Regions from separate parts of the Homo sapiens genome. Here region 1 is linked to region 2. The links come from fine-mapping of genetic effects on gene expression. A gene starts in region 2. The other region holds a variant in brackets. All regions are shown on one strand. Distances are between the middles of the regions. Region 1 has its middle 28 kb from the start of TEX13C. Region 2 holds the start of TENM1 (teneurin transmembrane protein 1).

What was found.
Region 1: its variant is fine-mapped to the expression of TENM1 in neutrophils (CEDAR, PIP 0.95).

The regions. Positions count from the first base shown.
Region 1 is chrX:125,289,509-125,294,889 of GRCh38, forward strand. No RefSeq gene overlaps it. Among named protein-coding and RNA genes, the nearest start is that of TEX13C, 28 kb to the right of the region's middle. The variant T/C (reference allele first, on the strand shown) is at 2,289.
Region 2 is chrX:125,201,358-125,206,738 of GRCh38, forward strand. TENM1 (teneurin transmembrane protein 1) reads right to left here and starts at 2,955. Exons shown (of 35, transcript NM_001163278.2): 1 at 2,447-2,955. It overlaps LOC124905211 (a long non-coding RNA gene), which reads left to right and starts at 3,103. Exons shown (of 2, transcript XR_007068314.1): 1 at 3,103-3,342; 2 at 3,685-5,381.

The DNA.
Region 1 (5,381 bases), 88 kb after region 2:
TATGAGAAAGATATGCACTTTAGGGGCCAGAGGTAAAATGCTATGGTCTGACTGTGTCTCCCAATGTTGATGTGTTGGAAACTCAATCCCCAGTGCAGTAGTTTTAGGAGGTAGGACATTCAAGAGGTAATTAGGTCATGAGGGAGTGGGTTTGTTATTGTGAGTGGGCAGTTATGAAAATGAGGTTGGCCCTCTCTTACTCTTTCACTCTTACCCTCCCACCTTCTGCCATGAGATGATGAAGGATGAAGGCCTTCACCAGATGTCAGTGTCATACTCTTGGACTTCCTAGTCTCCGGAACCATGAGCCAAATAAACTTCTTTCCATTATCTTTTTTTAAAGACAGCCTCACTGTTGCCCAGGCTGGAGTGCAGTGGCATGATCATAGCTCACTGCAGCTTTGAATTCCTGGGCTCAAACAATCCTTCCATCTCATCCTCCTGAGTAACTGAGACTATGGGCACACACCACCGTGCCTGGATAATTTATTTTATTTGTTATTTTTTTGTAGAGATGGGGTCTTGCTTTGCTTCTCAGGCTGGTCTCTCAAACTCCTGGTTTTAAGTGATCCCCTTGCCTTGGCCTTCTAAAGTGCTGGAATTTACAGGCATGAGTCACCATGCCTGGTATAAACTTATAATGTTTATAAATTACTCAGGATGTGGAATTATGTTATAGCAGTACAAAACGGAGCAAGACAAAACCAAAATGAGGGTCGATGCCTGTCATATTTCTCAAAGTCTATGCCATGCTCCTCAAAGCATTCATACAATAATTAAATGCTGGTAACATTTGTCTCTGTAGACAAATATTTTTGGTTTCTATTATTAGACAATAAGAACTATAAAATCCCATAATGTTTTCAATTTATGTTTGAGTCCAAGAAGATGAGCACTAAATTTAGGGCTCAATTGCAACTAAATCAACCTGAAACTCTTAGCAAAATTCAATTTTTACTAACAAATGGCATTTAATTTACATAGGCTTAGCTTTAATATTTAAATCAATTTATATAATTTTAATGAATGGTGATACTATCAATTAATAAAAATGAATTTAAAATAAGCAAAAATATACATCTTTTAATAATTTCAGATTTTTTTTTTTTTTTAACTTTAAGTACTGGGATACATGTGCGGAATGTGCCGGTTTGTTACATAGGTATACATATGCATGGTGATTTGCTGCACCCTATCAACCCATCATCTAGGTTTTAAGTAAAAATCATATGCAGATAAGAATGCAGAAAATATAATTAGAATTTGGAAGAATTATAAATGAAAATATAAATGTTTATTTTCAAGTGCTTTTGCTCATATTTAAAAATTCAGTATTTGGAATTTAAAGGTCTCTGCTTATTTTAGAGTTATTCCAAAATAACTGGGAATGTCATGGTTCTAGTAATTTTTTTTTAACTAGCAAGACAAATATGTCTAAAGAAGGATTAAGCTTGTTTGTTGATGTGGAATTGTCAGTAATGTGTTTAGGGTGGAAATGTATTTCAATTTTTTGGTGCCTTTCCTTGAAAACTATAGAGTCTTCAGAGGCGTTTTCCCTAAGGGTCATACCATGTAGCTATCTTAAAGGGAAAAGAACTTTATAAGTAAGTACTTCTGATGCCTAAGGAATTAGTACCCTCATACTAGTACCTTTTTATATGGTTTAATTTTCCATCTCACAGTAACCAGTTTTATGTCATATGGGGAACAAATGCAGGGTCATTCTTTCTTTTTAGATTTGAGACAATTATCTGTACTATTTAAGTAAAAAGTAAACTGTGTGCTCCAGAGTGGCTGTCAATATTGACTAAATTGACAGAGCAATTACTCAACTTTCTATTTCATTTGCCTTTGTACACATAGCCACAAATCAACTGGCTCAGTTAACTTACTCTGAGGAATTAATTTCCTTTGAAAACCTAACTTTTTAGCATGGTACAATTTAATAATAAAGTAGAAATATTTACAGTGGGCAAACTTTGAAAATAAGTATAAAATTAAATTTGGTACTCAGATACTTGATATAAATTATGGTTATATTCATTTCAACCATTGCAATGACTCAAGCAGATTTATTCATTCAACAAGCATTCATTGAGACCTAATATGTGCTTTTCACCGTGCTAGATCTGGGGACACAATATAAAATATCATGTGTCAGCCTTCAACAAATTCATAGTCCAGTGGGAAAATCAGACACAGAAAGAGATAATTATACAACAATATGGTAAGTGCAGTGATAAGGTTGTATAAAATAGTGTTTCAAGAAAATTAATGTAGTGGCACCA[T/C]GTAAAGTGCATTTGAGTTAAGAATATGACATTAGTAATATAAAGTAAGTATTATTACTATTCCTTTTTTATGTATAAGGAAACTTCAGAGGCTCAGAGAGATTCAGTCATAGTCTGGGATCACTGAGCTTACACATTCATGTGTTTATTCATTGATACATTCATTCATCAGAAACGATTCTGTAAGCCACGAACAGAGCAGTGATCAAAACAAACTGGATCCTTTCCTTATGGATCTTATAATAAATCCAAAAGTGCTCTGAGAATTCAGAGAAGAAGAAGATAATGCTACATATTTGAAATTTTAGAACGTGCAATTATACATTAAGAGGCAGAGCTAACAGGCTGGGCTCATCCCACTTGTCTGAAATGTAGTTCTTCTATGTTCTGCCAGCCAGGCTATGGAGTATGGAGTGGGCTTTCATGATGTTTATACATATATGGGCCTGCAGCATTTACTGAGTTATATTGTCTGAGTGGAATTTAAAATACATCATGGCTGTATAAACAATGTGATGAATAACATTAAAAAGTTAATTCTAATTAAAATCCCAGGGGTAACTAATTAGCATATGAAATGTCTTTATCTGAAGCAACACTTGGGGCTAATTAGCAGGTGAGGTATCTTAAATGAATACATCAACTTAGGGTTGGCCAATTTGCACAGGAATGTTAAAAATATTTTTTGATTGGAAAAAATAACAGTATTTTAGATATGTGATTGTCTGTGAATAGTGCAAGAGGACCAACCTCATTGGTATGAATAAGGTGTTGGAAATCTGCAAGGTGTTGGAAATCGGAAGTCTTGTGTCATAGGTACATTCCAGGACTGAAACTTATTGGTCTTGCATCTCCTTTTCACTGAAAATCTTACCCCTTGATAGGACGACAAGCTTCCACATTCTGCCATTTAGGTGAAAGAATGCAATTGCATTTGTTTTAGAGTAAACTTTTTATGCAAGGTGGACTTAAGGATAGAAAGAGGGGCCTCTTTTATCTATAAACAGGTTGTGAAGAAATGTGAGTACCTTTGTTGGAATTTGGTCTGAGGATTGTTTTCTCCTCATAGCCAGGTTTTTAGGGTTAAGGACAGATAGCCTCTATCTGTTTTTTAGTTACTGGTGAATACTAATTTTTATCAGAAAGACCTGACATTCACAGAATCACGAAAACAGGCTCAAGCCTGTTTGTTGTGGTGAAGAATTCATTGCCAACTGGGAACCAGAATCCACAATTCCCCAAATATCAAACTATCCATGATCAGAATGTTGGTGGTCAGTGGGAAGGAAGGAATTTATGTTCTTGAGGAAGAATAGTCAGCTAATGGTCGTATGGTTTCTATCCTCTAGAGAAAGTTAGAACAGAGCAACAATACTTTGCTTTTATTCCTGAATGCTTCACAAAGATGGTAAGGGTTCATTATTTCAATCAGCCAATACTTACTCTTTTCTTATTAGTCAACCTTGATTATATACTGAAATTGACTTTATAGGGACCCCGTCTTAGTCTATTTTGTGTTGCTGTAACAGAATACCTCAAATTAGGTATTTTTCTAATCAATGAAAATATTTTTAAAAACTTTTTATAGAGACATGGTCTCTCAATGTTGTCCAGGCTAGTCTTGGACTCCTGACATCAAGCCATCTTCACGTCTCAGCCTCCCAAAGTATTCAAATTACAGGCATGAGCTAACTCCACACAGCCATGTAATTTGTAAATGATAAAAGTGTATTTGACTCACGGTTCTGGAAGCTGGGGAGTCCAAGAGCATGGCACCAACATTTGGTGAGGGCCTTCCTGCTGCATCATCCCATGGTGGAAGGTGGAAGGGCAAGAGAGCATGAGAGCAAAACAGCAAGAGGGAGCTAAACTCGCTTTTGTTATAAGCCCCATCTAGAGATAAAAGAACTCATTTCTATGATAATAACATTCATCCATTTATGAGGGTGGAACCCTTATGACCTAATCACCTCTTATTAGTTCCTACCTCCCACCATTGTTACTTTGGGGATTAAGTTTCCAACATATGAAGTTTGGTGAACACATTCAAACCATACCAGACCTCTAACTTCTAACTGGTTGTAGATCTTGATGAAGACATTTCACAGCACTGCACTCAGTTTTGCTAGTGGTTTCCAAATTTCTCTCTCCTATCATTTGTTTTGCAATTTAACCTTTTCTTTTTACATCACAGTTCTGGAAGTTGTGTAACCCTAGACTCAGGCTAACAAGTAATTGAGTAATTGTGACACTGCTTTAACATACATAACCATTATTTCATTCAGGAAGTTACCTTTTCCTTCAGTCTATCTGAGGAAGTAGCCCTGGCTGCTCATTACTTCCTCCTTATGCTAGTCTCATCACTTTTTGGAGGATTTTATCAAAGAGATTATAAACAGACAAAACTTGATGACTGGTTGAATACTGGGAGTCATTTTGAAAGAGCAGTTAAATATAATGCCTAGGCTTCAAACCTAGGATTCCTGAAGTATATTAGTACCATTAATAAAAATGAAACTGAAAATAGGACCTGGCATAGCAGTCATCTAGAGTAAGTGAGACTGTATCTTATAGATATTATTTGCAAGTTATTGGACTAGAAGTGAGAACAAACTTCCTGCAAACATACTGCTTAATGAGTTCAAGAACTAAGGCTGTCAAGGTTAACATTACTTTACTATTTCAGGACATTATTGCCTAGGAAAATAAAGTTGCAACAAGGTTTTTATCTGAACAATAAGCTGATCAGTTAGCTGCCCTGCTCAAGGCAAGAAGTTACTCATCAGGGTAAATATCACCATTCTCAGGATGACAGATCACTCAATGTGCAAACTGCTTGCTTATCAAATGATTACTCATCAGGACACTTCAAAATTCTTGCTTTGCTGCATTCACCAATCTAAAAATCTGTGTTACAACTTTTTTTTCCGATTCCAGGCAGATCCCTTCTTTGAAAGACCTTCCTTAAGACAAATCCCAAAACTGTATGAAGATCTGCCCTTTCCCTTCCCCTTCCAAGACACTACTAAAAGTCTATCAAGGTGGTGTTTTCTCTTAATACAACACAGAATACATTCAACTTTGTCAGATCAA
Region 2 (5,381 bases):
ATATTTGAAATCTTAATCACCTTTACAGCACAATGATTCTACAAAGCATTCTTTCCTTTAGCCTCACTGTATATTTTGTCAAATGACATGACTGTCCCTAATTCATAATTGGAACCTAAACCTAATGGAAAATACTACTTCATGTATGCAAAAATATTTGTGGGGTTTTTTTCTGCTATGTATAGCTGACATTGTTCTCAGGACTGGACTCTACTAGTTTTATTATGAAAATGTTAACATTTCTTCATAGAGTTGTTTTATAGAAACACCTGTTTTTCAGAAACATTCTGGGGAACAACCTGAAAACTTTTAAATAATATTTAGAGCATGGATTTATTTTAGGAATTACCTGATCCCTTTTTAAATGCATATTTCGACTTTCTTTAATCATGAAAAGTTTTCAACATTATTTTGTCATACCTGAAAGCTTTTAATTACTCTTAAAAACCCCAACTTTGCCATAGTAAATTATTTAATGCATCACAAAATAGTGTTATGAACTTGAACTAAAATGGCAAAATTGGGATTCTGTTTCTCCAGTTATGTACTTTGAGGGTCTTACTATGCCTTATGAAAATTCATTTTTCCCCACGTTGCAGATATGAAGAGCAAGGAGCGGGGGTGAGCAAGCAAGCAGATGCTGGGTAATCATGGAGCAGAAGTTAAAGGTGTGGATCGCCTTTTCATTAATTTTGTTTTTTAAGCCTTTCCCTCTTAGACTCTTCCCTTTCTTGGTAACACTGGAGTATCTACTGCTCCAGATCAGAAGACTTCGGACTAGGAAGATGAACTGGGCTATTTCAGCCAAAAAATATAATAGAGCAGACATTTGCCATGTTCTCCTCAAACACGTTAAGAGTAGCAATTGATTCTCACAGTACATTGTTACCTGGCTTGTTAATTATAATCATAGAACAAGAGTCTAAAATTCAAGGAAGCTGTCTGCGACACTTACTCGTCACAAACGCGATCAATTAAACGCTAATCTAACAGTACCTATTAGAGTGCACTGGGATGTTTCGTTTCCTTTTGGTCTTTAAAACCAAATGGCTACTAATTTCCTTTCTGTAGCACTGAGAACTTCTCTTTGTATTTCTTTGGGCCACCTCAAAAACACCTCCAGGTTGGTATCCCAGGAAAACAACGGTTAAGTTCAGGACGTTTACTGACCAATTGCTTCATATTGGAGATGTAGAGCTTTTCTACCCCTATTAGCATATCGCCAGTAGCAGTGATGCAGATCTGCTCAACCCGAAGCTGCCGACGGCGAGTACGAGCTGCAAACCAGCCCCCGCCCCCGCCCCTACTCTCCCAGTGGCGACACAGACGTGGAAACATCTACTAGTGGAGTGAGATCCTCTGTCTCCGCAATTGTAAACAACTGACTGCATCGGGTTCACTGAAATGTTTAAATACACTCCTGACTGCAAACACATCCACTCACCAAGTAGCGCTAACAATCTCCCCTTCTCCGCCTCTAGGCAAAGCATCCTGAAACTAAATTGGCAATCCTCCTGTTATGGAGTGGAAGAAAGTGAGGTTACATTTCCCCAAGCCTGCCTAGCGGGTGCTTGGCGCTCGCAGATATGCTGGCCGTTGCTGAATCTCGGGGACCAAGTCTCTGGATGAAATGCGGAAACACACAAACCCGCACATTGGAGCGCATGGTTAAAGTCAACACCGACGGCTCCTGGAGCACCGCCTGGGTTGTAATGACTATCTCTTTTGACAAAGATTGACAAAGGTATAGGGAGGACGCATCGGGTGGGGCCCTCGACGGCGGCGTAGGTTAGGAGGTCCTGCAGTTCCCCCGGGAACCCGGGCTCCCTGAGTGAGGCTCAAATAGAAATTCAGAAGCAAACAGGTACTAAAGTGCGTCCTAGCCCTTGGGCATATTCTCTGCGGAGACAGCAGGACCTGGACCCCAGTGGCAGAGCCCCAGGCGAACGCTCCAGGGTGGGAGGGATGCCAGAGAAGCGCCCCTTTCTTTCTTTTTAGACCGAGCCTCCCATCCTCACCCCAAGCACCCAGGTCCACTTGTTAGAGTGACTGGGCTCTGCGCGAGAGCCGAGGCGAGGAGGCTCCCTCTCAGAACTGAAGGAGTTGGTTGGTAAAAGTGCCGCCTGGGAAGCCCAGCGAGCCCTCGAAGGGCAGCGTCCCCAGGGCCCGCTGGAAGCTTGAACTGCGAACAAGGCCGACCTCCCTTCTGCCCCAGATGGTCCAGAGCCCCATGGCCGGCGGAGACCGGGAGAAGAAGGATGCGGAGGCTCTGCCACCTCGGGCAGGAGTCCCAGAGCGGACTCAACCGGCCGCTAACAGCCAGGAGCCGCCATCCGCCGCCTGCAGCCTCGGGGCGAAGTTCGCCTGTAGTCCTTGGGGTAGAAGGTTGGGGGTGGCGGGCGGGAGCGAGAAGGAATGGGGTGGGAGCCAGGAGAAACGCACCTACCTATTCCAAGCGCAAGTTTCGGCGGCGTCCCCAGGTGCTGTTCCCCCGCCCCCTCGCCAGGTGCTCGGCTCCGCCGGGCGCTGCCAGTGCCCGGGACTTAGGGCGTCTCGGCCGACTCCTGCGGGAAACGACTGTAAATCCACATTACTGTTCGAGCTGCCGCTCGGGCCCCCGCATTGCTCTCCTCCGGCTGCTGGCAGCGGTGCTCTAAACCGGCGGCCGCCGGAGGCAGGAACCGAACCTAGCTACTATTGCACCAGCGGACGACCGCTGCCAGAAGGGTGCTTGCGCCCAGGGTCCTATGTGTGTGCGAGAGAGTGTGAATACGTGTGTGTGTGTGAGTGAAAGAGAGTGTTCGTGTGTGAGAGAGCAGAAGGGGTGAGCTCAGCCCCCGGGGCACTCGGAGGTGAACTCCGGGCTGAGCCGAAGCTCGCCGCGCTCCCGGGTGCTGGGCGTCTGCTCGGCTGATGGCTGGGCTGATGTTGCCGTGGCCGCCGCCGCCGCGCTCTAAGGCTGGTCGCGGTGGTGCAAAAAATGTTTCTCCGCTACTCGAGACCAAAAAACCTGCCCTGTCTACTGAGCATGCCCGGTTTGACAGCTTCACAGCCGAGGTTTTTTTTTTTTTCTCCTTTTCCCCAAGACTCCAGGTTTTAGCCGCAGCTGAGATGGGAGGTGGAGGGAGGTGGGGGGAGGAGGAGAGGGAGAGGAGGAGGAGGAGAAAGAGGAGAAGGGCTTAAGGAGCAAGTATCGGGCAGAGGAAGGGAAGTCGCAATGAGAAAGATCAGGGTGTTATAGGGTGGAGAGGGGAAGGAGAAAGCTGGATATGGAAGCAGAGGAAGGAAATATGGATCAACAAAATTTAGATTTCCTACTACAGTGGATAGATGCCTGGCCAGGTGACTCACTCGATGTTTTTTTTTTTTTTTTTTTTTTAATTACTTTCTCCTGAGGGTGAGGGGTGGGGTGGGGGGTTCGGATGAGTATTTGTCAACCCCAGGATCAGCCTGGGACAGTGTTACCTAGTCATGACATACACAAACATCGCGTGCACACACACGCGCGCGCACACGAGCGCACACACAGGAGCACAATCACTGCTTCTATGTTCAAAGCCTCAGGACTGACTTAGAATGCGAAGTCTTTTGCCAGTATAACTTTGGCAAAAAAAAAAAAAAAAGGGCGGGGGGAGAGAAATTGTTTGGTTTCCTTTTCTTATTCTCCTCTCCCCCGCCTTCCAGAAAAGCCAAAAGCCCGTGAATGCGGTGCATAAGCGACCCACAAGCTCTCGTGCGTCTGTCGGTGAGAGTGCACCGCCGACTGCGTCCTGCTGACAGTGTGACCCCAGAGCGCCAAGGCCGGCCGGCCACATGCAGCCTACTGGCGGCGCATCAGATCAGCAGTAACGACGTCCACCTGAAGGTGGTTGGGGGAAGAGGGGAGCGCTAAGGGATCCTGCCCTGCCTGGCCGCCCAGGTTCCTGGGCTCCCTAAACGGCTCCGCCCCTCACCCAGCCTGGCACCAGGGCACGTACTCGGGCGAACCCAGCGCGCTGCCCCAAGCCCTGGATCCCTCCCTCCCTCCCAACCCTCCTCAGCTTCCTCGAAAAAGCGGAGAAGCGGAATCTGCACGCCCAGAAACTCGCGTCAGAAGCCTTAGTAGTCCGACTGGGCATGCTCGGGACTTGGGGCGCTTCGCATGGAGGCACTCTCCAGCGGCTAACATCTGTCCGACTGGGCCAGATGTGAGTCTGAAGTAGGAGGCTTGGATGCACGCTAGAGCAGGCTCTGGTTCCGGGAGGGGTGGCGGCGACGCCCACAGCAGTCTTCTTTCCGGCTTCCCACAGAGAGCAAGACCGTGGGAGATACCAAGTGCCGAGCCAGGGGAGCTGCACAAACTGGAGAAATAGGAGTCTAGCGGATTCCCAGGCCTCCTGCCCCGCGGTGCCACCCCAGCCGTAGGCAGGTAGGGGGCGCGCAGAGCAGCTAGGGAGCACCGCGTGTGCTCCCAAGGGACTGCTGACCTCTAGGTAAAGAAAAGAGAGCGTGAAGAGTCGAACATTCTTTGGGCGAAGGACGTTTACTGATTTTTTTTTTTTTAAGTAAAGAAAGAAGGGCGTGTGTGAATGCGTATATGTGCACGCACGTTTTAAATTTTCCTCCGCAAGAACAGGGACAGGAGAGCGAGAAGCTATTGCCGAGTTGGGAACCCGCTAGAGGTTACAATAAGGCAGGCTTGGAGTCGTGGCTGGTGCTAGTTACCGGGAAGAGTTCCTCTTGGCGCGGTGGGCGAACACCAAAGCTTCCAACTGTTCCCTTCCCTGGGTGGCGGCAGCTGCCCAAGGTCGGCTTCCGGGCTGGTCTCTGTGCTCCTGAGCAGGGGGACCAGATTCAGTTTCAGAAAGAGAGGTAGTACAGAGTGACGCCAGGGGGAGTTCTCTGAACCGTGTGTTCCCATTTTCCCAGCTTTTGATATAGGTATTTGCAAAGAGGGAGCATTGTAAGACCATCACACCACCAAGGGGAGGAAATACAAAGAGCTGAACACTCTAGGGGGAAGAATCAGGGAATCAAGAGCACGTTTATTCCCATCGTCCCTTCCCAACAAGGTCTTCAGCTTCAGGCAGGAATCATTTGGATCCCTGCGGCTCAACACCCTCCCACTCCCGTCCCGCCCCACCGCCCTGCCAACAAAGAAACAAAAGATGACAACCAGGCTCTGTAGGGGCATAGCAACTGCTTCTATCACCGGCTCTCTGTTGGGCTGTTGAGAAAGCAGTAGTGAAAGGATGGGTATAAAACCTGTGTCTTGCCACAAATATGTAAACGAAACCTTCCTAAAACCCACTACCCTCCTACAAAACAAAAACAAGTTATTTGTATAAACATATATAGATTTAAGTATCCTAAATAAAGATTCCACATTATGAACTGCCCAA